7 linked regions of the Homo sapiens genome follow. The protein of the gene in region 5 interacts with the protein of the main gene of each other region in a pairwise test. Each region holds a gene or a part of one and is shown on either strand. Other genes may lie near its edges. The genes, in order: EIF3B, EXOSC10, ZMYND10, TRIML2, EIF3M, ABI3 and ZNF783.

The links.
Region 1: the proteins of EIF3M (region 5) and EIF3B interact in binary tests that used the Homo sapiens proteins (3 or more experiments, as listed by UniProt).
Region 2: the proteins of EIF3M (region 5) and EXOSC10 interact in a two-hybrid assay, tested with the Homo sapiens proteins (one large-scale study listed by BioGRID and IntAct).
Region 3: the proteins of EIF3M (region 5) and ZMYND10 interact in binary tests that used the Homo sapiens proteins (3 or more experiments, as listed by UniProt).
Region 4: the proteins of EIF3M (region 5) and TRIML2 interact in binary tests that used the Homo sapiens proteins (3 or more experiments, as listed by UniProt).
Region 6: the proteins of EIF3M (region 5) and ABI3 interact in binary tests that used the Homo sapiens proteins (3 or more experiments, as listed by UniProt).
Region 7: the proteins of EIF3M (region 5) and ZNF783 interact in binary tests that used the Homo sapiens proteins (3 or more experiments, as listed by UniProt).

The regions. Positions count from the first base shown.
Region 1 is NC_000007.14:2,361,327-2,364,826, forward strand, and holds part of EIF3B (eukaryotic translation initiation factor 3 subunit B), read left to right. Parts: intron 1-1,318; coding exon 1,319-1,438; intron 1,439-1,743; coding exon 1,744-1,801; intron 1,802-2,305; coding exon 2,306-2,434; intron 2,435-3,045; coding exon 3,046-3,203; intron 3,204-3,500.
Region 2 is NC_000001.11:11,089,870-11,093,369, forward strand, and holds part of EXOSC10 (exosome complex component 10), read right to left. Parts: intron 1,729-3,500; coding exon 1,624-1,728; intron 1,311-1,623; coding exon 1,145-1,310; intron 800-1,144; coding exon 685-799; intron 1-684. UniProt on the Homo sapiens protein: Catalytic component of the RNA exosome complex which has 3'->5' exoribonuclease activity and participates in a multitude of cellular RNA processing and degradation events.
Region 3 is NC_000003.12:50,342,933-50,347,074, forward strand, and holds the start of ZMYND10 (zinc finger MYND domain-containing protein 10), read right to left. Parts: upstream 2,801-4,142; 5' UTR 2,648-2,800; coding exon 2,556-2,647; intron 2,301-2,555; coding exon 2,192-2,300; intron 919-2,191; coding exon 802-918; intron 685-801; coding exon 631-684; intron 513-630; coding exon 375-512; intron 275-374; coding exon 186-274; intron 87-185; coding exon 1-86. UniProt on the Homo sapiens protein: Plays a role in axonemal structure organization and motility. Involved in axonemal pre-assembly of inner and outer dynein arms (IDA and ODA, respectively) for proper axoneme building for cilia motility.
Region 4 is NC_000004.12:188,099,604-188,103,103, forward strand, and holds part of TRIML2 (probable E3 ubiquitin-protein ligase TRIML2), read right to left. Parts: intron 1,671-3,500; exon of another isoform or gene 1,657-1,670; coding exon of another isoform or gene 1,648-1,656; coding exon 1,453-1,647; intron 1-1,452.
Region 5 is NC_000011.10:32,593,831-32,597,330, reverse strand, and holds part of EIF3M (eukaryotic translation initiation factor 3 subunit M), read right to left. Parts: intron 3,466-3,500; coding exon 3,382-3,465; intron 2,418-3,381; coding exon 2,318-2,417; intron 1,366-2,317; coding exon 1,284-1,365; intron 1-1,283. UniProt on the Homo sapiens protein: Component of the eukaryotic translation initiation factor 3 (eIF-3) complex, which is required for several steps in the initiation of protein synthesis.
Region 6 is NC_000017.11:49,209,416-49,213,506, reverse strand, and holds the start of ABI3 (ABI gene family member 3), read right to left. Parts: upstream 2,801-4,091; 5' UTR 2,783-2,800; coding exon 2,666-2,782; intron 1-2,665. UniProt on the Homo sapiens protein: May inhibit tumor metastasis. In vitro, reduces cell motility.
Region 7 is NC_000007.14:149,282,342-149,285,488, reverse strand, and holds the end of ZNF783 (zinc finger protein 783), read right to left. Parts: coding exon 3,146-3,147; 3' UTR 501-3,145; downstream 1-500. UniProt on the Homo sapiens protein: May be involved in transcriptional regulation.

The sequences.
Region 1 (3,500 bases), on a different chromosome or scaffold from region 5:
GCTGCTGCATTTTCTGTGTTGGGCAGTCAGTTGAAGGATGGCCTCTTGACCCTCAGTTACTCGTGTTATAATGAAACATTCTCTGAGGTTCTTTCTTTCTTTCTTTTTTTTGAGTCGGAGTCTCGCTCTGTCGCCCAGGCTGGAGTGCAGTGTCGCAATCTCGGCTCACTGAAAGCTCCGCCTCCCAGGTTCACACTATTCTCCCGCCTCAGCCTCCCTAGTAGCTGGGACTACTGGCGCCCGCTACCACGCCCGGCTAATTTTTTGTATTTTTAGTAGAGACGGGGTTTCACCATGTTAGCCAGAATGGTCTCGATCTCCTGACCTTGTGATCCACCCGCCTCGGCCTCCCAAAGTGCTGGGATTACAGGCCTGAGCCACCGCGCCCGGCCTCTCTGAGCTTCTTTCTAATCTTGCCTGTAATACACAATATTAGACTACTTTTAAGTTTTTTTTGTTTGTTTGTTTGTTTGAGACAGTCTCACTCTTGCCCAGGCTGGAGTGCAGTGGTGTGATCTCAGCTCACTGCAACCTCCGCCTCCCGGGTTCAAGCAATTCTCCTGCCCCACCCTCCCAAGTAGCCGGGATTACAGGCGCACACTACCACGCCTGGCTTGCTTGCTTGCTTATTTATTTATTTATTTATTTATTGAGACAGAGTCTTGCTCTGTCACCCAGGCTGGAGTGCAGTGGCACGATCTTGGCTCACTGCAACCTCCGCCTCCCAGGCTCAAGCAATTCTCCTGCCTTAGCCTCCTGAGTAGCTGGGATTATAAGCATGTGCCACCATGCCCGGCTAATTTTTGTATATTTAGCAGAGACAGGGTTTCACCATGTTGGCCGGGCTGGTCTCGAACTCCTGACCTCAAGTGATCTGCCCACCTTGGCCTCCCAAAGTGCTGGGATTACAGGTGTGAACCATTGCGCCCAGCCAAGATTTTTTTTTAAACAGCTTTATTGAGATAATTGATATACAGTAAATCTGCATAGTTTTAAAGCGTACAATTTAATACATTTTGATGTGTACATATCACGAAACCATCGCCACAGTCAAAATAATGGACGTTTTGATTAACTTTTCTATAATTATGATAATGAAACTAGAGACTTCGGATCTTCTGGTTAGGATTTCCCTGTCACTTAGGAGCTCCCTGGCTGTGGATCTGTCCCCCGTGTGACTGCCTTAGGCTCGAGGCAGGAAGAGCAGCACAGATACTCCTGGCACCGAGGGCTTGTCCGTGGAGAGGGGTGGGGCGGACAGCGCATACCTGCCTAGCCTTACAGTGTGGGTATGTGCCAACGGCCCTCTCTCACTCAGGTATATTTTCCTGGAGTACGCGTCCCCTGCCCACGCTGTGGATGCTGTGAAGAACGCCGACGGCTACAAGCTTGACAAGCAGCACACATTCCGGGTCAACCTCTTTACGGATTTTGACAAGTGAGTTCAGACTTGGCCACAAGGAAGTGGACGTTGACGTGCAAGTGACTGGCTGTGTGCGGGTGGCTTGGTGCTTCTCGGTGCTGGTGTCTGTCAGATTGTTCACATCCTTTCTGGTCAGGCTGCCGCAGAGCCATTTCACAGCCCTGCCCCACACTTCTGGCCTACAGCACCCCTCCCTGTTATGCCAGTCACAGCCCTGGGGGCGGGCAGGCAGGAGCACAGCAGGGCCATGCTGGAGCCCCCACGAGTTGCTCTTTCTAGTCGTCAGGGCGTGGGGCTCAGCAGTCTCCTTTCTTCTCCAGGTATATGACGATCAGTGACGAGTGGGATATTCCAGAGAAACAGCCTTTCAAAGACCTGGTGAGTGGCCTGAAACCTACATCTCAGTGGTTTAAAGAAATGCTGCTGGGTGTGGTGGGTCACACCTGCAATCCCAGCACTTAGGGAGGCTGAGGTGGGAGGATCGCTTAAGCCCAGGAATTCAAGACCAGCCTGGGCAACAAAGTGAGACCCCCGCCTCTACAAAAAGTAAATAAATACATACATTAGCTGGGCCTGGCATGCACCTGTATTCCCAGCTACCTGGGAGGCTGAGGGGGGAGGATCACTTGAGCCTGGGAGGTTGAGCCTGGGAGGTTGAGGCTGCCGTGAGCTATGATTGTGCCACTGGACTCCAGCCTGGGCAACAGCGTGACTCTGTCTCAAAAAAAAAAGAAATGCTAGACGGTGTCTTGACTTGAGGTTAGGGTGTGACTTGGGAGTTAAGATGTGGACTGAACTTGTCATATCTTTAAGAGCAATAGTTGTGAATGAGTTTTTTATTAAAATTAATGAAATGTTATATTCCTTGTCTTTGTTTTTAAGGGGAACTTACGTTACTGGCTTGAAGAGGCAGAATGCAGAGATCAGTACAGTGTGATTTTTGAGAGTGGAGACCGCACTTCCATATTCTGGAATGACGTAAAAGACCCTGTCTCAATTGAAGAAAGAGCGGTGTGTATTTGCTGCTGCTGGGGGCGGGGACTCACCTCTCCTGTATTTCCTTAACAAAGTGGAACTTTGTTTCTATCAGAAAACTGGAAGAGCAGGTGACGTTATATTTTCTTTGAGATTACTTTCTGAAAACAACTTCTTTTATTCCTCTTCCAGCTTTGAAGTAAATCCTGAGAAGTGAACAGGCTTTGTGTATTTCACTTAAGAGTTTGCAGAATAGGCCGGGCGCGGTGGCTCACGCCTGTAATCCCAGCACTTTGGGAGGCCAAGGTGGGTGGATCACGAGGTCAGGAGATTGAGACCATCCTGGCTAACACGGTGAAACCCCGTCTCTACTAAAAATACAAAAAAATTAGCTGGGCATGGTGGCAGGCACCTGTAGTCCCCGCTACTCGGGAGGCTGAGGCAGGAGAATGGCATGAACCTGGGAGGTGGAGCTTGCAGTGAGCTGAGATTGCGCCACTGCACTCCAGCCTGGGAGACAGCGAGACTCCGTCTCAAAAAAAAAAAAAGTTTGTAGAACAGATTCATTGTAGGATAAATTCATTGTAGGAGGGGTCTTTGTGTTTGCCATTTTGTTGTATTAACGTTGGCACTGCCTTTTTCTGCAGAGATGGACAGAGACGTATGTGCGTTGGTCTCCTAAGGGCACCTACCTGGCTACCTTTCATCAAAGAGGCATTGCTCTATGGGGGGGAGAGAAATTCAAGCAAATTCAGAGATTCAGCCACCAAGGGGTTCAGCTTATTGACTTCTCACCTTGTGAAAGGTAAGCTGCTAGAAAAACACAGGGGAGTCTATGCATTTCACCCCATGCCAGCCTTCTACAGGTGATCTTTCATTTTGTAGCATTTCAAACTTAGTAGAAAAATACGGGAGTATGCAGAACGCTAATAAGCTTTTTACTGAGATCTTCTCACATTTGGTTGCATTTACGTCATCATCTCCTATACAGATATTTTTTCCTGAGCCATTTGGGAGTGAGTTGAAATAACATGTCCCTTTAGCCCTGAATGTGTATTCCTAGAAATAGGATTTTGTTAGTGTGACCATAGTGTGGGTACTG
Region 2 (3,500 bases), on a different chromosome or scaffold from region 5:
GGAGGTAAAGGCTGTAGTGAGCTGTGTTCATGCCACCACACTCCAGTCTGGGCGACAGAGCAAGACCCTGTCTCAAAGAAGTTCCAACTCTACAAGAAGCCTGCATCTCTAATTTTGCTTTTACATCTTTTTTTTTTTTTTTTTTTGAGATGGAGTCTTACTCTATCACTCAGGCTGGAGTGCAGTGACGCCATCTTGGCTCACTGCAACCTCCACCTCCCAAGTTCAAGCGATTCTCCTGCCTCAGCCTCCCGAGTAGCTGGGATTACAGGCACACACCACCTCGCCTGGCTAATTTTTGTATTTTCAGTAGAGATGGGGTTTCACCATGTTGGCCAGGCTGGTCTCGAACTCCTGACCTCAGGTGATCCACCGGTCTCAGCCTCCCAAAGTGCTGGGATTACAGGCGTAAGCCACCGCGCCCAGCCTTCGTGTTTTACATCTATAAAATGGGAATAAGAGCAACTGCTACTTCTCAGGACTGCAGTGAGGTTTACATGAGGCAATGCTGTGTAGGCCCTTTGTGAACACAAACAGCAGGTTTTATTGCTAAGGCCCAGGTTGGGGTGTAAGGAGGAAATCACTACTCCTCAGATTGTTTTCATGTATATACTCCACAAAAGTGAAAATGTGGCAAAAAGGTAAGTACTCACGGCAGAAAGTCAGACACAGGCCAACACTTACATGTCTTGCTCAACCTGCTGGGTTCTCTGCTGATGGATGAAATCAGCCAGTGCAGGGGGGACGTCCAAGTCCTCAGGACGATCCTGTGGGCGTTCCCGCCTTTCCTTAGAGAGAGCTGGGGATCCCAGCAGTGACAAAAACATCATTAGCACATTCATGTCTTTTCTAATTACACAGGGGTAAACTGGTTCCCTTTGTTTTTTGGCTTTTTTTTTTGAGACAGGGTCATGTTCTGTCCCCCAGGCTGAAGTGTGGTGGCACAAGCACAGCTCACTGTAGCCTTGACCTCCTGGGCTCAAGTGATCCTCCCACTTCAGCCTCTGGAATAGCTGAACTGGGCTCCCTTTGAACAAAGGAGGGTGGGCTCCCTTTGAACAAAGAAGAGAGACCTGTACACCCTTCCTGGTTTTTGCATCAAATAAAGTGAGACTCAAACACAGGCAAAGTATGCACTATTTACCTTGAGGGAGAGGTTTCTGAGCATTGGGTTTGATGAAGATTTTAGGAAGAAATGGTGTGTTGGAATTGTCAATCTTCTCTCGAAACTTGAGCTGAGGTCGGATGATATTTTTTGCATGAAGCAGCCGGAAAGTTTCAGATTTTGCTTTTTTGCCATATTCTGCTGCCTATGATCAATGAATACAAATACTTTATAACACAGCAACTTGATGAATTAGAAAAGTAAATTCCAATTTATGACTTCTGAGGAGACAAGAACATCGCAAAGGTCATTCATTCATTTAAGAATGTATGTGCATGTAGAGGTCTCCAGAAAGAGAAGAAGAGGGTGTAATTAGTTTGTGTATGTTTATGAGAACAAACTAAAGGAGACAGTGGCCAGTTCTCTAATAAATTAGAACAGAAATGCATGTTAGAATGAGCAAAATCTCTGTTATGAAGCTGACATCAAGAGCTCTAGTTAATCTGAAAAGCCCTCACCTTACGGTTCCAGCTGGACACTACCGTTTTGGGGACCTGCAAGCCGGCAGGGAGGACAGGCTGTTGATTCTTGTTTACACCTGAGGCTTCATCCAGTAAAATACCCTAAGAGTAGAAGAGGTACTGGTTAAGCATTTTTCCTTTTGAGGTTAGCAGAGTTAACTACCTAACATTTTATTTATTTAACATGGAGTATCACTCTGTCACCCAGGCTGGAGTGCAGTGGCGCAATCTTGCCTCACTGCAACTCTTTACAGTTCTGAATTGGGCTCACTGCAACCTCTGCCTCCAGGGTTCAAGCGATTCTCCTGCCTCAGCCTCCCGAGTAGCTGGGATTACAGGTGTGCACCACCATACCTGGCTAATTTTTTATTTTTAGTAGAGATGGGGTTTCACCCGGTTGGCCAGGCTGGTCTCGAACTCCTGACCTCAAGTGATCCGCCCACCTGAGCCTCCCAAAATGCTGGGATTATAGGCGTGAGCCACCGTGCCCCACCTAATTACCTAACATTTTAAAGAGATTGGTATTCAGAGACATTTGTGTAAGAAAATATACATATATAAGAACAGATCAATGTATGTATCAAAACATCAAGTTGTATGTAATAAATATATAGATGGTCCCCAATGTATGACAGTTTGACTTGTAAGTTTTTGAGTTTACAATGATGTGAAAGTGATTTGCATTTAGTAGAATCCATATTTCAAGTACACTTACCACCTGTTTTTCTTTTTTCTTTTTTGAGACAGAGTCTTGCTCTGTTGCCAGGCTGAAGTGTAATGGCGTGATCTCAGCTAATTGCAACCTGCCTCCCGGGTTCAAGCGATTCTCCTGCCTCAGCCTCCCAAGTAATTGGGACTACAGGCATGCACCACCACGCCCAGCTAATTTTTGTATTTTTAGTAGAGACAGGGTTTCACCAGGTTGGCCAGGATGGTCTCGATCTCTTGACCTTGTGAGCTGCCTGCCTCGACCTCCCAAAGTGCTAGGATTACAGGCGTAAGCCACTGTGCCTGGCCCTGTTTTTCTTTTTTTTTTTTTTGAGAGGGAGTCTCACTCTGTTGCCCAGGCTGGAGTGCAGTGGTCCAATCTCAGCTTGCTGCAGTCTTCGCCTCCTGGGTTCAAGCAATTCTCATGCCTCAGCCTCCCGAGTATCTGGGACTACAGGTGCACGCCACCACGCCCAGCTAATTTTTGTATTTTTTAGTAGAGATGGGGTTTCACTATGTTGACCAAGCTGGTCTTGAACTCTTGACCTCAAGTGATCCACCTGCCTTGGCCTCCCAAAATGCTAGGATTACAGGCATGAGCTACTGTGCCCGGCCACAACCTGTTTTTCACTTTCAGAAGTGTATTCAATGCTACTTGAATTACATGAGATGAATATTCAACACTGTATTATAAAAATAGGCTTTGTGTAAGATTTTGCCCAACTGTAGACTAATGGAAGTTTTCTGAGCACATTTAAAGCAGGTTCAGTTAAGCTATTTGGTAAGTGAGGTGTATTAAATGCATTTTTGACTTATAATATAGGTTTATTGAGACATAACCATGTAAATGATCGCCTATACAATTTTTGTCAATAAAAAAATAAAAATTTTACAAAGTTGATCAATAAAGGTCATTAGTATGTCATGCCAAGTAATTAATGCATTATTTGCTCAAAGGCAGGTAGGACAGTAATTACCCATGCCCAATACTCGATTGACTCTTTAAAGCTCTGAATTGGGCTGAAAATTCTAATATGATTTAACAGTGTAATGTGGCCACTAAAATAACTAAGAAGTCCCTGGACTGCATACATTAAATATAGAAGTACACTATTTAGAATGAAACTGCAGGGAGTCCTCATCTATTTTGCACTTTAAAGCAGACG
Region 3 (4,142 bases), on a different chromosome or scaffold from region 5:
TCCAGGGACTATGCTCCAGCAGTTCCACCAGGAGGCAGGGCAGGTTGTGTGTGCTAAGCATACGGCTCAAGGTGCTGAGAGAGAGGCTAGGGGCAGGGACGTTGTGAAGGAGGTGAGTAGAGGCAGGCTACAGGCCCGGTCTTCCAGCCCTCCACAGTAGGCCCAGGCCCAGTCGGACTGCTCACCTGTCCACACAGTCTGTGATGTAGCGTAGTACTGAGAGGGCCTTCAGTGCAATCTCAAATTCCATCAGCTCTGCCTGCTTCTGCAGCTCCTGGGAGGTCACACAGTGTTCACGCTGGGCCACCCTCACCTGCGCAGGCCTTGGGGAACCCAGACCTAGGCTTTCACAACCCTAGGTAACCTCAACCCACCTGCATGGGGTTGCTGTCCTGGGATCCCTCCCCCTCAGGGGGGCCACCACAGCCACTCTGGGCCACCAGCAGGGTCAGTTTGCGGTGGCAATAGTCTACCAAGTCCAAGACAGTGTCTTCTGCTGACTCACACACCTCCTGGGAAAAGGAGGAGGGAAACTTTCTGTGTCTGATGCCTTCCCCACACAGACACAATCTCCCTTCCTGCCAGGCCCTGACCCGGAACTGTGGCCCATGGGCAGAGATAGTCCCTCACCTTGTGGAAGAACACTGTCTCCAAGAGGTTGATGATGGAGGCCTCGTGGTGCACCTGTCAGATAAAGAGAAGGACAGGGCCTGAGGAAGGGATAGGGGCTACCAGCTCTCCTCCCCGGTCCAGAGCCCTCTGAAGGAGTGAGAAGAGGTATGAACCAGGGGCCCAGCTCACCACCATGTAGATGGGGAAGGTGTTCTGGGGCTTGAAGTCCTCCACCCTGCAGAACACAGGGAACACCTTCTGCTTCCACATCTCCACTGCGATCAGCTCCTCCACCAGTGTTGGGACCTTTGAAGGGTAGGGTAAAGGACAGGGATGAGATGGGCCTACCTTTGCCTGGCAACCCTCCCATCCCCGGCTCAGCTCAACCCTGATATCCCCAAACACTGCTGGGCCCCTAAACTATTCCAGACCCATGAGTATCCTTCCTGACTTCTCTCTTGCACCTTGGACCTTCATTACCAGCTGCTCCCAACACCTCTGTGGATGTCCCTCATGCTTATGTGACTGGCTCCTGCCCAGTTCCCAGACTGCCTTGCCCTGCCTGCACCTGCACCCTTATCCTCTGCCCGCCCATTCAGGCATCCCTTTCAAGCCAGCCCTTCTCCTCATGCCCTCCCTCTAGTCCCTGTCTGTGGTCCTCCAAAGCTCTTGTGTGCCTTGGCCTCACTCCTACTCAGGACCCTTCACAGTGCCCTGTTCCTATCCTATCCCCTAGTATGAGTTCCATCTTTCTTTTGCAAAGGACCTTTCTTTTTTTTTTTTTTTTTTTTGAGACGGAGTTTCACTCTTGTCACCCAGGCTGGAGTGCAGTGGCATGATCTTGGCTCTCTGTAACCTCTGCCTCCCAGGTTCAAGCGATTCTCCTGCCTCAGCCTCCCGAGTAGCTGGGATTACAGGTGTGCACCACCATGCTCTGCAAATTTTTGTATTTTTAGTAGAGGTGGGGTTTCACCATGTTGGCCAGGCTGGCCTTGAACTCCTGACCTCAGATGATCCACCCGTCTTGGCCTCCCAAAATGCTGGGATAACAGGCATGAGCTACCATGCCCGGCTTTTTTTTTTTTTTTTTTGGTCAATTGATATCTCAGGTCATCTGCTGGTGACACTCCCTGGTCCATGTTCCAGCCAGGCATCTCCCTGGTTTCTAACTTCCCCCTTTCATGTTGGGAAGGCTGCTTCCTTCCATGCCGAAGTTCCACCTCCAGTTAGGTTATCTCCCCTCCCTCCCGCCCTCCCCAACCCCTCCCCACCCCTTCCCCACCACCAGCCTTACAGTCAATTCACAGATGCCTTTAGCATTTGGGCCTTCCCCTTGAAGCCTAAGCTGTTCTAGGACCTACAGCTTTCTCCCTAATCAACTCATGCCCTGCACCCAGCCTGGTGTGCCAGAGTCCTGTCCAATAGGGATACAAAATGAAACATGTAACACATTCCTCTTTGTCCTTCAGGGAGAACAGGTGTACCAGGCCAGAGGGGAAGGGCACACAGGGGACTCCGGAGGGGTAGAGTAGGTGAGGTATGGGGGAAGGCAGGAACCCTGCCTGTGACCTCGGGGTACCTTCCCATGGGTGACCAGCAGCTCCTGAATGGGCTCGCCCTGGCTGACTGTGGCATCGAGGATGGCTTGCATGTTCAGCTTCTCCAGGTTCTCATGCTGCTGGTTCCACCTGCCTCAGAGGGTAAGTGCATGTGCGTCCACGTGTGTGCATTAGGAGTGGGGATGGGGGCTGGATCCTACTGAAGCCTAACCTGATCCTGAGGGGACACAGGGGGCTCAGGAGCAGTAATACTCCTGTCTCGGAACGCTCTGCTCCCCCATTTGGGAGCCCCTCCACACTGGGCAGCCCCTCCCCCGAGTCAGGCCCCAGCTCCCCGACTCAAGGACAATGACTCCGGGACTCCGCCTGACCCGGGTGCCTCACCCTTCGGAGCCCATCTCGCGTAGCGGGAAGCTGCGCAGACCCCGCACCAGCACTTCAGCTTCCCCGGGCAGCAGCAGTTCCAGGTCTCCCATATCGAGGCCGGGGTCCGGCGGATCCTGGGCAGCAGCCGGGGTGGGGATGCTGTCACATTCGGGGACGACGGACCCCGACGGTGCCAAAGTCTGGGACAGGACAGTTGCGGGACGGTTGGGGAGCGTCAGTTCTCGCAGCCATGGAAACGGGTTAGCCGCGCCTGCGCAGTGCGGCCTGGGCCCCGCCCCTGGAGGTGGCTCGCGCCTAAATCCGGGCGGGTCTCTAGCCCGCCTCGCCTACGCGACTGCCAATCGCCATAGTATTTGGATTCCCAGCGCTTTCTCGGGCTGTGGCCCACGAGTCTCTCCTGAGCTCCAGATCCTTGTGGTCTGGACTCTGTCCTCAGACGCCAAGTCCGCCTGCACAGGGATGGGGGTAACCCCGACCCCAACAGCCCCTCCTGCGGCTGTGGCATCTTGACCTACCCGCTGCTCTTCCTCCTCCTTATGGCTTCTTGGTTCCTCTATTTCTCGCGTCCCGGCTCCACTAGTTGGCTCCTGAAATACTGCCAGGGCGCACGACTTCTCTCCATCCTCCCTATGTCCAGACTGTCATCACCTGTCATGGGTGAACTGCGGCAGCCTTTTCTGTAGACCTACTTCCACGCTTGATCCTCATGGACAGCCCGGAGCCTTAAAAGTGTATATCAGGCCGGGCGCGGTGGCTGACACCTGTAATCTCAGCACTTTGGGAGGCCGAGGCAGGCGGATCACTTGAGGTCAGGAGTTTGAGACCAGCCTGGGCAACATGGTGAAACCCTGTCTCTACTAAAAGTACAAAAATTAGACAGGTGTGGTAGCACACACCTGTAGTCCCAGCTACATGGGAGACTGAGGCAGGAGAATCGCTTGAGCACAGGAGGTGGAGTTTGCAGTGAGGCAAGATTGCACCACCGCACTCCAGCCTGGACAACAAAGGGAGACCGTCTCAAAAAAAAAAAAAAAGCATATAGACATTACTCCCTTGCGTGAGAGGGGCTCTGTGGCTACTTCTGGCCCTCAAAATGTTAGGTGGGATGCCGCTTACTAGCAGCTCTGCAAGATCTACTTCTTGTCCTCTCCTGTACCTCGGGACTTGGATTCTTTCCTCTCCTCCTTGCTTCCCTGAACCTCCCTCATACATTCCAAAGAGGTTTTTGCCTCAGAGTTTTGCACTTTGCCTGGAATACTTTTCCTTCAGGGCTCAGTTTACACCTCAGCATGGCCTTTCTTGGCCATTTAATCCAGAGCAGTCCCTGCCTCCAACCCAACTCACTCTTGATCACATCTTTTTTTGAAATTGAGTCTCCTGTCACCTAGGCTGGAGTGCAGTGGCATGATCTTGGCTCACTGCAACCTCTGCCTCCCAGGTTCAAGTGATTCTCCTGCCTCAGCTTCCTGAGTAGCTGGGATTACAGGTGTGCACCACCACACCTGGCTAATTTTTTGTATTTTTTTTTAGTGGAGATGGGGTTTCACTATGTTGGCCAGGCTGTTTTTGAACATCTGACCTCAG
Region 4 (3,500 bases), on a different chromosome or scaffold from region 5:
CTGCTTTTCTGCCTGCTACCCCAGGAACAGACATAATTAGGCAAGGCCATGATATTCTTCTGCTGAAGCAGGATTCCTCTCAAGAGACAGTTGATTCTTTGCCCCCTGTTATGTATGTTTAAGCCAATACAGATGTGTGTGCACGCAGCCCTTACTCACATTAATATGCACCTAAAACATTTCATGTTTTTTCTGTGGCTGTTTGTTCAGAAGGTTCCCTATTTTTTCATTAACTTGAAATCAATTAAAATTAAGGTATATAGATTAACTAATAAGAAATAAATAATTACGTTACTGATATCAATTTTCTTTTTATCCTTCCAAGTATACTTTACATATACTGCGTAGTCACATACGCAACTTGAGTATGTTATTTAGGGGGAAAAAACATAAACATAAGTGATAGTTTATTATATTTGATTACTAATCTGACAACTTACTTTATTCTTGGAGAACATTCCTTATTCATATACACAGAGCCATGACATCATCTTAACATGCTGAAGAGTATTCTTCCATGTATGTATGGAGCACATTTTGTGAGTCTTCTATTGACAAATACAGGGTGTTTCTAACCTCTTGCTATGAATGTTATAATTGTAACATCTGCTACTCATCAACTGCTTAACATGAACAAGACACGATTTAATAAGCTTTAGCAGATTATCTCACTCAAATCTCACAATAATTTTATAAATTAGGGGTCACTGTTATATCCAGTTTACAGCTAAAGGAACCAAGTCAAAGGTTAAGCAGCAGGTCGTAGGCCACCCAGGAGCCAGTAAACAGCTGGCTCAGATAGGAACTCCATTCATCCGGCTTCAAAGGTGAATTCTAGGCCGGGCGCGGTGGCTCACGCCTGTAATCCCAGCACTTTGGGAGGCTGAGGCGGGTGGATCATGAGGTCAGGAGATCGAGACCATCCTGGCTAACACGGTGAAACCCCGTCTCTACTAAATATACAAAAAATTAGCCGGGCGTAGTGGCGGGCACCTGTAATCCCAGCTACTTGGGAGGCTGAGGCAGGAGAATGGCGTGAACCCGGGAGGCGAAGCTTGCAGTGAGCTGAGATTGCGCCACTGCACTCCAGCCTGGAGACAGAGCCAGACTCTGTCTCAAAAAAAAGAAAGGTGAATTCTAAACCATGGCTCTAAACTGAAACTCAGTTTCAGTGTTGCCTTACCCAGGTGTCTTTTTCTATGTGTGTAAGTATGTTTGAAGCATAATACAGTAATATGTGTACAAATATATTTATAGGTATATTGTGCTTTATTTATGTCTTTTTATATGCATGTCAAGATAAATTCATAGAAATGGAGTTGCCAGGTAGGTATATAATTCATTTAATACATGTGTGGTTGTCACTGGCTATGTTATTTTGGAATTGACATAATGTTTAGCTCTTCTTTTTCTCATTTCTCAAATATGAGGATGTTGTTTTCAATATCTCACCTGTAGCATTTCCTGGAACATCTCCTCTAGCTCGGTGGCAAGCTTGATCGCTTGATTCAGAAGGGTTTCTCTCAGGTTCAAGTCAGATATGCATTCCTGCTGTCTCTGGAGATTCTGCTCACACTCTTCATTCAACAACCGGAGTCTCATACTATACTCAGACTCAATCATCTTTTTAAAATTTTGTTCCTCTTCCTTCCTCATATAGACATGATAGACTTCAGGTTAAACATGATAGATTAACAACACACACACACGTCATAATAGATAGATATCTATATCTATATATAGATATATATATCTTACACTGACCACAATGTATTCTTTCCATCTCTAACCCCAATATAAAGACAAGGAAGGCTGGGCGCAGTGGCTCACGCCTGCAATCCCAGCACTTTGGGAGGCCAAAGTGGGTGGATCACGAGGTCAGGAGATCGAGACCATACTGGCCAGCATGGTGAAACCCCATCTCTACTAAAAATACAAAAATTAGCTGGGCGTGGTGGGGAGCACCCATAATCCCAGCTACTCGGAAGGCTAAGGCAGGAGAATCGCTTGAACCTGGGAGGTGGAGGTTGCAGTGAGCAGAGATTACGCCACTGCACTCCAGCCTGGCAACAGAGCTAGACTCTGTCTCAAAAAAACAAACAAACAAAAAAAGACGAGGAAATGTAAAGTACAGAAGAAAAGGAATAAACCCAAAGGAGAAATAGAATTTGAGTCAACATCAGCCAAGACATCAACACAATTTTAGAACATAAAATGCAGACGAAGAAATGTTCATCAATGAATTGGCTGGGCGCGGTGGTTCACGCCTGTAATCCCAGCACTTTGGGAGGCCGAGGCAGGCGGATCACGAGGTCAGGAGATCGAGACCATCCTGGCTAACACGGTGAAACCCCGTCTCTACTAAAAATACAAAAAATTAGCCGGGCTTGGTGGCGGGCGCCTGTAGTCCCAGCTACTCGGGAGGCTGAGGCAGGAGAATGGCGTGAACCCGGGAGGTGGAGCTTGCAGTGAGCCGAGATGGCGCCACCGCACTCCAGCCTGGGCGACAGAGGGAGACTCCATCTTAAAAAAAAAAAAAAAAAAAAGAAATGTTCATCAATAAGGAAAAACTAAGGAAGCTATAGCCTCTGTCAAACAGAGGAGGAGACCAGGACATTGGAAAAGGGCCAATGGGATTTGCTGATGCTTGGGTAAGAGTTGTGGGGAAAAAAGGAGTCATGGACGAAAGACACCAAAAATTTTAGACTAAGCAACTGGAAGAATGGAATTACCAAAATATATAGAGAGAATCTATGGAAAGGCTGGATTCCAGAAGTGAGGAGTGTGCGTTAGCTCGGGATGTGATGAATTTGATTAGTCAATTAGACATCCAAGTAAAGATAGTAAGTAGGAAATTGGACATGAAGCCTACTACCATTTGGAAATCTGAGCTAGGGATATATATTTGAAAGTAGTCATCTTAGAGATGCTTAAATAGCATCTCTATTAAGCTATTTAAGATTCAGTGAAATTGTCCGGGCTCACGTCTGTAATCCCAGCACTTTGGGAGGCCAAGGCAGGTGGATCATGGGGTCAGCAGTTCGAGACCAGCCTGACCAACATGGTGAAACCCCGTCTCTACTAAAAATAAAAAAATTAGCCAGGCATGATGACGGGCCCCTGTAATGTCAGCTACCTGGGAGACTAAGGCAGGAGAATTGCTTGAACCCGGGAGGCGGAGGTTGCAGTGAGCCGAGATCGCGTCACTGAACTCTAGCCTGGGTAACAAGAACGAAACTTCATCTCAAAAAAAAAAAAAAAAAGATTCAATGAAATCAAGATTTATCAAGAACCTGACTACTTCTCACCACTGCTCTACCTGTCCCCCAGCTCACCATCATCTCTCCCTAATTATTGCAAGTCCCTTTGCACGTCTCTCCACCTCTGCTTTTACTCTCTTGGTTTTTTTTTTTTTTTTTTTTTTTTTGAGACGGAGTCTCGCTCTGTCGCCCAGGCTGGAGTGCAGTGGCGCCATCTCGGCTCACTGCAAGCTCCGCCTC
Region 5 (3,500 bases):
TATTTGTTACCATTCTGTGGCTATGGCTTAAAAAAAGGGACCAAAAATACAAATCACCATATATCTAAGGAATAAAGTCTTCTACAAAGAAACAATATTATTTTAAGAATAATGTTTAGCTTAATAAAGTACCTTTAATCATCAAATTTTATCAGCTCTTAAAACATTTCTGAAAGTTACCATTATGATCAAAGTAATGGTAATTCTTTCAGTTGCTTTTCTGCTCACTCCTCCATCTCTAAATTTTAAAAACAAATGTACCAATGGAACTATTTCTTCAATCTTCTCCAAACACCCGATTGTTGATATAACTTTACCTCAAAGAATCATGGTACAGAAGAGCTGGAAGGGCCTAAAGTTCAGCAAGCTCTTAAATGAGACAAAAAGGTTCCAAGTCATTTTCTCTCTCTTTTTTTTTTGTTTTTTGAGATGGAGCCTCACTCTGTCATCCAGGCTGGAGTGCAGCAGTGTGATCTGAACTCACTGCAACCTCTGCCTCCCGGGTTCAAGTGGTTCTCTTGCCTAAGGCTCCTGAGTAGTTGGCACTACAGGTATGTGCCACCATGCCCACTAATTTTTGTATTTTTAGTAGAAATGGGGTTTTGCCATGTTGGCCAGGCTGGTCTTGAACTCCTGACCTCAAGTGATCCACCCACCTCATCCTCCCAAAGTGCTGGGATTACAAGTGCTAAGTTGTTTTCTTTTCTTTCTTTTTTTTTTTTTTTTTTTTGAGACAGACTCTTGCTCTGTTGCCGAGGCTGGAGTGCAGTGGCACAGTCTTGGCTCACTGCAACCTCCGCCTCCATCTCCCGGGTTCAAGCTATTCTCCTGCCTCAGCCTCTCAAGTAGCTGGGACTACGGGCACCCGCCACCGCGCCCGGCTAATTTTTTGTATTTTTAGTAGAGACAGGGTTTCACCATGTTAGTCAGCCAAGATGGTCTCGACCTCCTGACCTCGTGATCCGCCCGCCTCGGCCTCCAAAGTGCTGGGATTATACCTCTAAGCCACCGCGCTGGGCCCCGAGTTGTTTTCATACTCCCAGTTTCATTCTCTTTCTATCACAAATGCCACCTCCTACACCTTCTTGGTTTCTGATTCTCAATTCATTCTAAGTAATATTTTAAACTGTCTACCTATTTTTGTGCTGTTCTATCATACACGACTCCTTTTAGGATAATCTACAAATAAGGCCACAGCCATACTTGCTGGAACACATAGTACATAACTGTTAGTGTATCATGTTCCCACCTCTGTGCCTCAAAGAATAAACCCCAAAACTTACCAAGTGAATCAATGAAGTCTTTATTATTCTGATAAAACTTGACATATGATGCCAATTTAGCACTCACAAAAATGGTTAAAAGCTATACAGATAAGAGACAAAAAAGATACCATCAATACAGAATTCAGATTTATTGTAAGATATTCTAAGATATTGTAAATATTATTTTAAAGATACTGACTCCTACATTTTGTTCAAGGCAGAAATATCATTCTGTTTCATCAAATTACCAAACCATCTGCTTTCACATGGCTCACTTTTAAAATGAAATAATCAGTAAATACACTGAGCTCTAAATTATCCACACTGAAAGATGATGGCTAATGGCATAGTCCAGATGCACAACAGTCCAAAATATATTTATACTTGCATTTGAAAAATGTTCATGTGTTTTTAAATATCAGACTTATATTCCTAAGTGGGGCTAGGAACAATATATATGTAATAAAAAAGAAACTTGTATTATCTAAGTCTATAATGATGAGTAAGTGAGAAGATGAAAGAAAGGGAGGTAGCCGGGCACAGTGGCTCACGCCTGTAATCCCAGCACTCTGGGAGGCCGAAGTGGGCAGATCATTTGGGGTCAGGGGGGTCAGGAGTCGGAGACCAGACCAACATGGCAAAACTCTGTATCTACTAAAAATACAAAAATTAGCTGGGCCTGATGGCATGTGCCTGTAATCCCAGCTACTTCTCCTGGAAGCTGAGGCAGGAGAATTGCTTAAATCAGGGAGGCAGAGGTTGCAGTGAGCCAAGATCATGCCACCGCACTCCAGCCTGGTGACAGAGTGAGACTCAGTCTCAAAAAAAAAAAAGAAATTAAGAAAGGGAGGAAGAATAGGACTCTGCTCAGTGGATGAAGAAAAGCTGGTCCTAAATATGTCTGTTCCTGATATAAAAAGAATACATAGTTCTTAATCTTTCCATATCTTGCCATTAGTCACTTTTATTAATGCAAAGAAAAAGAGTCCTGCTTCAGTATGTAAAATTTAGGAAAGGAGAACATTTTTCACATTAAAGGATAAACTACTTACATCATGAATAAGCTCGCCTTCCAAAAACTTGACTGGTTTTAAAGTAAGAAGGTGGTCAAAAAGAAATGCATTTGGATCTTTCAATGCTCGTACAATACACCTTAATTAGAGAACAAAAATGTAAGCTCAGGGTTTTGAAATCCTGGCTTTTCATTGAGTTTTTGCAGATCATAAAATATACTTAATTCGGCAAAATATCTAACAGTCCAAAACATATAAACAACATTAAAAAAGCTACAGGATTGGGTTAAGACAGGCCAACACATTTATCAGGTTCATCTGTTTTAACAAAATGAAATATATTAATTGTAGATAAAAACATAGCTGGAGAGAAAGCACCAAGGTAATCAAATAGTAAGCAGCAGCAGAACCACATGCCAAGACACTAAGTGCTTCACTTGCCTTACATCTCATTTATTCCTCACAACAACCTAGGAGACAAACAGTATTACTCTGCCCCCTTTATCAACTATGAAGCAGTTCAGAAGTGCTCATTAAGAGGTGGAGTAAGAATGTGAATGGAGGCAGCCTGACCTCAAAGTCAAGGATCTTTACCACCAACTTCCCTTTTTACCAACTCCTATCATGTAGAGGTCCACACAAAGCAATGACCAAAAAAAGAAGTTTCATAATCCTTATTACATAGATTTAGAAAACTGATTCTATTCTTGTTACCAGTTAGATCTAAGACTGTTAAAAGCCCTTATACTCATTAGCAATGGGTTAATTTTTGGCAAGCCATCAACTTTCCACCTATAACCTTAAAATTAGGGTCAATTGGCCCAAGATTAGGTTCTAATTCTTGGGTTGGGATCATCATCCCCATACCAGCAATACCCCCCCCGCCAGGTAAACGCCATGCAGCTACTTCATATTCAATCCACAGTTCTTCCAATATCAAACCTTGAATTTTAGTATCTACATTAGAATCACCAGGAAATACACACTATCAAATGGCTCTGGATCACTGGTAGTTGCAAACATGATTTCAGTTACTTAATTTAATATTGTAGCTTACCTCTACATCGCTGTCAAACCCTCATCAGAGTAACGTTTAACATTACCTGTGGGCATCAACTCGAGCCTGGGAAGCATTGTCCTCTGTGTAACTTCCGAGCAATTCCACCATGACTTTTGAAGCAGCATCACTAAAAAGAAATATTGCTTTAGGAACTTGAAAGCA
Region 6 (4,091 bases), on a different chromosome or scaffold from region 5:
CATCTGGGTGGTGTGGGGAGAGAGGGGCTGCAGGTGGGGTTGGAGGGTAGGGGAATCAGGCCTTAGGTAACAGAAGTTCTGAGATCCAGAACCTTCCTAGGCATTTGCCTAGATAAAGATCCTCAGAAAGGCCAGGAAAGGTAACAAGTTGTGTGTTCTAGTAGTTAGTACTCTGCACGAAGGAAGCAGGAGTCCAAGGATTCCAACTTGGGTCAGGGCTTCTCATGCCCTGCATATTTTTGCAAGGACAGCTTCTCCTCCCTAGAACTGATTCTTATTATCCATCCTTCCAATGAATGGTAGTGATGGTCATTGTAAGAGCTGCCATTTATCCTGCTCTTCTGAAGGGGCTGGCACTAGGCTGAATGCTTTGATACATTTTTATATTGAATCCATGGAGCCACCACTGAAGGCAGGCATGAGAATCAGAGGAGAAACTTGCCACAGTTCCTGTAGTTGGTAGGTGGCAGAACTGGAAATTTGACTTAGGTCTTTGCGACCCCAAATTGTGTGTGCACACTGTGTGTGCAAATGAGAGCCCTGTGGAAGCTCTTTGAGGTGTGCAGAAGTTATGGAAGGAATGGAAAGGACTGCTTGGATCCTTGTCCATAGAGGAAACATGCCTTTCCATGCTAGGAGAATGAGCTGGTTTGCAAGCCTCATTCTGTCTCATCTGCAGGTGGTCACTCAACATCTACACAGACCGAAATGATACCCAGAGTAGCATTTTCAGTTAGTGGCATAGGGAGTGGGCTCTGGAATCAGATTTCTGCGTTTGAATTCAGGCTCTGACACTAGCTAGGAGACTTCTGGGAAAGTGACTTAACCTTTCCAAACCTCAGCTTCCTCACTGTGAAGTGGGCATGGGACTCGCCTCACCGGACTTCAGATGAGGATGAAGGGAGGCCATGCTGGTAACATGCCTGGCCCAAAAGAAGGGTCCAGAGCATTTTAACTGCTGTCATTACTGACTGTCTTTAATCTGCCATTTCCCATGAGCACTTGTTACTCATTTACTTCTTTTTTCAACATTCTTACTATGCTACAAGGTCCCTGTGCCTGTTCTCATAGTTTGGTTAGTACAGGTTAGAAAAATAAAGTTTTGCCCAAGGGGTAACAAGGTTAGTCTGCAGCTCTTCAGGGAGCAGAGGAAACCGGGGACAGAGAGTGCTAATAAACTGTCGTAAAGTCACATAGCGTGTAGGGAGGCAGAAAGATGGAGAGGAAAGAGCTTGGCATCAGGATTCAGGGAAGCCCAAATGTGGTGGCTTATGCCTGTAATCCCAGCACTTTGGGAGGCCAAGGTGGGCAGATCACTTGAGGCCAGGAGTTCAAGACCAGCCTGGGCTACATATGGAGACCCTGTCTTTACAAAAAAATTTAAAAAATTAGCCAGGCATGGTGGCATGCACCTGTAGCCCCAGCTACTCAGAAGGCTGAGGTGGGAGGATTGCTTGAACCTAGGAGTTCAAGGCTTCAGTGAAGCTACGTGAGCTATGATCATGCCACAGCACTCCAGCCTGGGTGACAGAGGAGACCCCGTCAAAAAAAAAAAAAGGCTGGCTGGGCACAGTGGCTCACTCCTGTAATCCCAGAACTTTGGGAGGCCAAGGCGGGTGGATCACCTGAGGTGTCAGGAGTTCGAGACCAGCCTTACCAACATGGCGAAACCCTGTCTCTACTAAAAATATAAAATTAGTCGGGCATGGTGGTGCATGCCTGTAATTCCAGCTACTCAGGAGGCTGAGGCAGGAGAATTTCTTGAACCCGGAAGGCGGAGGTTGTAGTGAGCCAAGATCGAGCCATTGCACTCCAGCCTGGACAACAAGAGCGAAAAAAAAGGAATGCCTGGCTCTGCTGTTTGGAGCTGTGTGGCCTTAGACAAGTCACCTCACCTCCCTGAGCTACTGTTTCCACATCTGTAAAATAGGAATTATAATACATGTCTCACAAGGTAGTTGTACAGATTAATGAAATAACAGAAGTGATTTCCATCATGGCTCAGTTGCCTTGCCTCTCCTCCCTGAATCCAGGAATCTATGTTCTCAGCCCCAGGACAACCACACAATTTAAAACCTGTTCTACAATGCCACCTCCCTATCTGTTGCTAGAAGCCTGCTCCCAGCAGTTATGTGGGCCATCCCCCTGCCTCTGCATGAGATCCCCTCTCTTTAGCCCAGCCTACTCTGCCTTATCCCCACTCTCCCTTTCCCAAACTCAGGGAAAGAGCCCCTTTCCCTTGTCCATCTCAGGTTCACTGTGCTGTTTGGGAAGTTCTTCTGAAGCCTCACCCAGAGCCGGCCTGGAAATAGAATGATCGCCAGCATCTGTGTGAGGACGGAGGCTTTGGGTCTCTGGATTGACCCGTGGGAACTCAGAAGGATGAACCTGAGGTGACACCTGAGAACAGGATGGAATCGCACTGTCTGTCCCAGGCATCTCTGAGGCTCTGAGAGACAGAAGGGGCACAGTGGGGGCTTGGGTAGTATGGGGTCAGGGTTAAGTATTGGGGTCTGGGATGAAGCCGAAGCCTGGAATGGGAGGATTTCTCAGCCAAGGCCCAGGACAAGCACTGTCAGGATGGGTCCCAGGGCCCCACTTGGGGCAGGGCTCAGGGTCCCCCCTCCGGGGGCTGGGGTGTCAGGCTTCCGCCCGCTCTACCTACCTGCACATAGTTGTCCTCGCAGTAGTCAGCGACCCGCAGCAGGGCACTGTGGTTGCCCCTCAGAGCCTCCCGGCCAGTGGGGATCTCAAACTCCTGCAGCTGCTGTAGCTCCGCCATCACCCCCAGCCTCTGTCTGGCTCCCCAGGGAGCCCGCTCGTTTTGAGTCTCACCCTGCCCTTGATTGGTTGCTCTGCCTTCCCTCCCTCTTATTGCTTTTGGTTTCCTCTGCGTGAGACCCAAACCTGCTTGCAAAGGGCAGGCATGCTCATTCCGGGACAAGAGGAAGTCAGTCCTGCTCCCCGAGCCTGTGTCTCTCTGTCCCCTGCCCAGAGGAAGGGGGAAGCCAGGGGCCCATTTGGGGGCCCAGCCCCCAATCCCACCCAGCAGAGGAAGCCAAGGTCGGGGCAGCTGTGATTGCTCCCTGGTCCTGGAGAGGAAACTGGTCGGCTGGGGGATGGGGTCGGAGACTGGGGAGGAAGGGGGCTGGCCTGCTATAGGGGGCGGAGGTGGATTTTCCACTCATGGAAGGCGGGAGGAAAGGGCAGAGGGTGGGGGCTTCCTTGGGAAGCTCAGGGATGAGTCACCAAGGGACAGGGGAGTGGAGGGTGGATAGGATATGGAGATCCGTCATACCAGAGGACTGTGGGGCAGCAGCACAGCAAAAATAGAAAACAGCCGATGCGGCAGCAAGAGGGGTCAGGGTTGGACACCGGGAAGACATGACCAGAGAGGTTGCCAGAGGGGTGTTAGCAAGCCTGCGAAGGGTTGTGTGTGATGAAGATCTGCCCTACACGCTCTGTGCAGATGAAGGCAGGACAAGATGAAATTGACCAAGCGTAATGTGAGGGACTCAGATTAGACAACAGGAAGGACTTGGATTTGAGAAGCACCAGGTTCAAATTTCAGATCAACTTGCGGTTTTAGGAAGCAGCGGTGGACAGAGCACTGAGCCTGCCTAGGAGGTATGGGCTGTGGTTCACGCATTAACAGGACAGTTGTACCAGACAACCTCCAGGATCCTGTTCTGATTTCAAATTCTTAGAGCTCCCAGCTGAGAGTTGGACTGGGTCCTGGAGCACGGAAGTTAGGATGGACGGCGGGCCTCCTCTCTGCCCCTCCCACCACCAAGCCTGTCATCCTAGAGACAGGAGAATAAGAGGACCTCCCATTGACCATATTGGTCCCTTAACTTTTGCTCCTCCAGCGGGTCCCTTGTCATTGGATGGGTGTCAACCAGAGCAGGAGCTCAATGTCTGTTAAATGGCATAGCCCTTGGGTGGTCCTGGGGGGACAGCAAGAAAAAAACCAGGATGTGGGTTCTGTGCTCAGGAACCCACATTCAGGGCTCAGAGGGAGGCATGGCAGCAAAGAAGCTTGAACAGAGGCATTAGAGGTGGCCACGCCCCAAGTACTAAGTGGCACAGCT
Region 7 (3,147 bases), on a different chromosome or scaffold from region 5:
CAGCCGCCTCGGCCATGGCCCTGTGCTGGCCGGCCTGGGCAGGGAGTAGCCGCTGCCGTTACGCGCGGCCCCACACAAGCCCGGCTGCGCAGTCCTCTCCGCAGACGGCGTCAGCCCTGCTTTCCCCGCACGGACCGAGCTCGCGGGGCCGCCGGGGCTCGGGACACGCGGAAAACGCGTCAGCGCGGCAGCTGTGCAGAGACTCAACGGGTTGCGACCGGGTGGACCCCGCCCACATCCCGAAGCCAGATCCCCATTGGCCGGTGGTGGAAGCTCCGCCCCCCACTTGGCTGGCGCCTCCGACCCAGTGCCAGCTTTTCATTGGCCAACCCGGGAGGCCCCGCCCCCACAGCGTGCGCCGGGCCTTTGTGCACGCCCGACAGGTGCGAGCGCCCGCCCCGGGCTGGTGCCCAACAGCCCGCAGGTGTCGCCAGCTGCCACCGCCCCGCACGGCCACTCACCTCCCAGAGAGCAGAAACCAGATCAAGCGCACGCACTCGTTTATGCCAACAACTTTATTGAGCACCAATTAGGGCAAGGGACTACCACCTTCACAGTTCTCTTGGGCTTATTAACGTCGTGGCCCACTCATTTATTTCACAAATGAGGAAACCGAGGACCCTGCTGGGAGAGTTTGGGGCCCAACCAGGGCTCCCACTGAGTCTGGGGCACCCTCAGCTCCTGCACCACAAAGCTTCGGTTGACTTGTTTCAATGTAAAGAACGTTACTTAAACAGGTCTGAGTGCTAGGCAAACTCACAAGACCTAGCTCAAAGTTTGAGCACATTGGTATGAAAAAAAGAAAAAAGGAGAATCAGCACCTTGTGATATTTAAGCAGGGGCATTTGGCATTAGCCAACCAAGCCCAGAAAGTCGGCAAAATTCTTAGCCTGAGGCATCCCCAGAACACCTGAGACTAGCTCCTGCAGCTGAGGGTTAAACTCGTGCACCTGCACTTGCACCACATCCTGTCTGAGCTCTTGCTGACAGCCCGTCTCTGGTTTGTGAAGCTCCTGGCAAGGGTGGGGGGACTCCAGAGCAGACAAGCAGGATCCACAGCACAGAAGGGCAGTGCCTCTTCCCAAACCCAAGGGAGCCTGGCTGAACTGTCACTGACTTGTATACTCACTCTCCTCCCAGAGATGACAGCAATGCTACCATTGGCCCCCAACTCTGCTCAAGACTTTGGAAGAAGTGTGAGGGTCAGAAGGGCAAGGAAATGGCACATCCAGGGACCAAGACCCCCAGAAGCAGCCCTGAAGCGTGGTCACAGTGCCAGACAAGGCGGTAAAAAACAAGGATAGCTGGGGTCCCATCACTCCAGCTTCAGAGTCACCCACACCAAGGCTGCTCTACAGACAGCGTCCGCAGTGGTGTGATGAGAGACACCAGAAGCCAGCTGACCTCCAGACTGCCCCATGAGGCAGTCTGAACTGAGGCAGTCTGAACTTCTACAGTCCGAATCTCATGCTTTGGTAAGAATTTGTTCACCAAAATACAAAGGACTCCTGGGGAACAGAGCCCCATGGGCGACTCTTTCACTGAACCCAGTGGAACTGCCACTCACTCCAGAAGATAAAGGTCCTTCCTGAGGGATTCTGACAGGAAAAAAAGGCTGGAATGGAGTAGAAAGGAGGCCCTGAATTTGAAAGGAAGCACAAAGCTAGGCTTCATATTTGTCCCAGTGCCTGTTACTTTGACCCTGACAACTCTGAGGTAGGACACACTGGGGCCATGACCCCTTTGACAGAAGAGGAACATGAGACTAGCTGTGACTAAAGGATTCACCCAGATCTCCTAGCCCAACTCTGCCCCAGAGCCCAAAGTGCTCAAGGGAGAACTCCTTTGAGAGGAGACTGCCCCGCCTTTAATGTGAAAAGCAGGCCTGGAGGCCCAGGGTGGACGTGGTCCTCAGCCAGACCAAGGGCCTCCTCTAGTGGAGGGGCTTCCTGGGCTCTCTCTGCACTGCCCCTCAGGGTGCTTTCTGGGGTCCAGTCAATGGATCTTACACACCCATGAACACTGAGCCCTTGGGGAGACGTGTCCAGGCTTCAGTTTCCCCTCCCAGCTGACAACAAAAGTAAATAATGGATGTGACTATCCTGTGGGGAAGGACTAGGAATACTGGGAGTCACTCTGGGCCAAGAAACACACACATGGGGAGACACTGTGCCTCCAAGACAGCAGCCAAGACATCCCCATCAAAACCCACAGGCTGGGCCAAGAGTGGTGGCTCACGCCTGTAATCCCAGCACTTCAGGAGGCCGAGGTGTGCGGGTCACCTAACATCAGGAGTTCGAGACCAGTCTGGACAACATGATGAAACCCTGTCTCTACTAAAAATACAAAAATTAGCCGGGAGTGGTGGTGGGCGCCTGTAATCCCAGCTACTCAGGAGGCTGAGGCAGGAGAATCACCTGAACCCGAGAGGCGGAGGTTGCAGTGAGCGGAGATTGTACCATTGCACTCCAGCCTGGGCAACAAGAGTGAAACTCCATCTTAAAAAAACAACAACAACAACAAAAAAAAAACCAAAAGACCCACAGGCTGGTGGACGTAGCTCCCCTTTCAGCTCTGCGAGCCTCACATGGAAAAGCCGACTCTTTCCGACTTTGCAAAAGGCAAAGTTCCATTAACAACTACACACATTTACAAAAGTATTTCAAAGTCTCTATAAGAAGGGAAAAAAATTTCAAAATAGCAAAGTAGAAAACTTTCCAGGGCCCTTTCTTCAAGTCAGGCCATCCATCCACTCCACTCCACTGTTTCTCATGGTGACAGCAGGCAGGAGATCTCTGCACAAAACAAAAATCCCAGGTCCCCGATGTCTCTATCGCCCCCATACTGGAAGGGCCATGATCTCTGGTCCTCTTGGCTGTGGTACCTACCAGAGGCCTTATCAAAAATATGGCATCCCTTAAGCCTTAAGGCATCTTTTAGAAGTCAGGAATGCAGAAAAGGCAGCGAAGAGTGCAAACAGGAAACAGAAAGCACCCGGTCACACACAATGTCACCAGAAGGGCAGCTAGCTTCCCATTTGAATGGGTAAAAACAACAAACCTCTCTCCATCCCAGGAAAAGGAAGAACCTGCGTCAGGCACAGGGGAGAGACCCCGCCAGGGGTCCTCTGTGGGCTCCTGCCAGGTC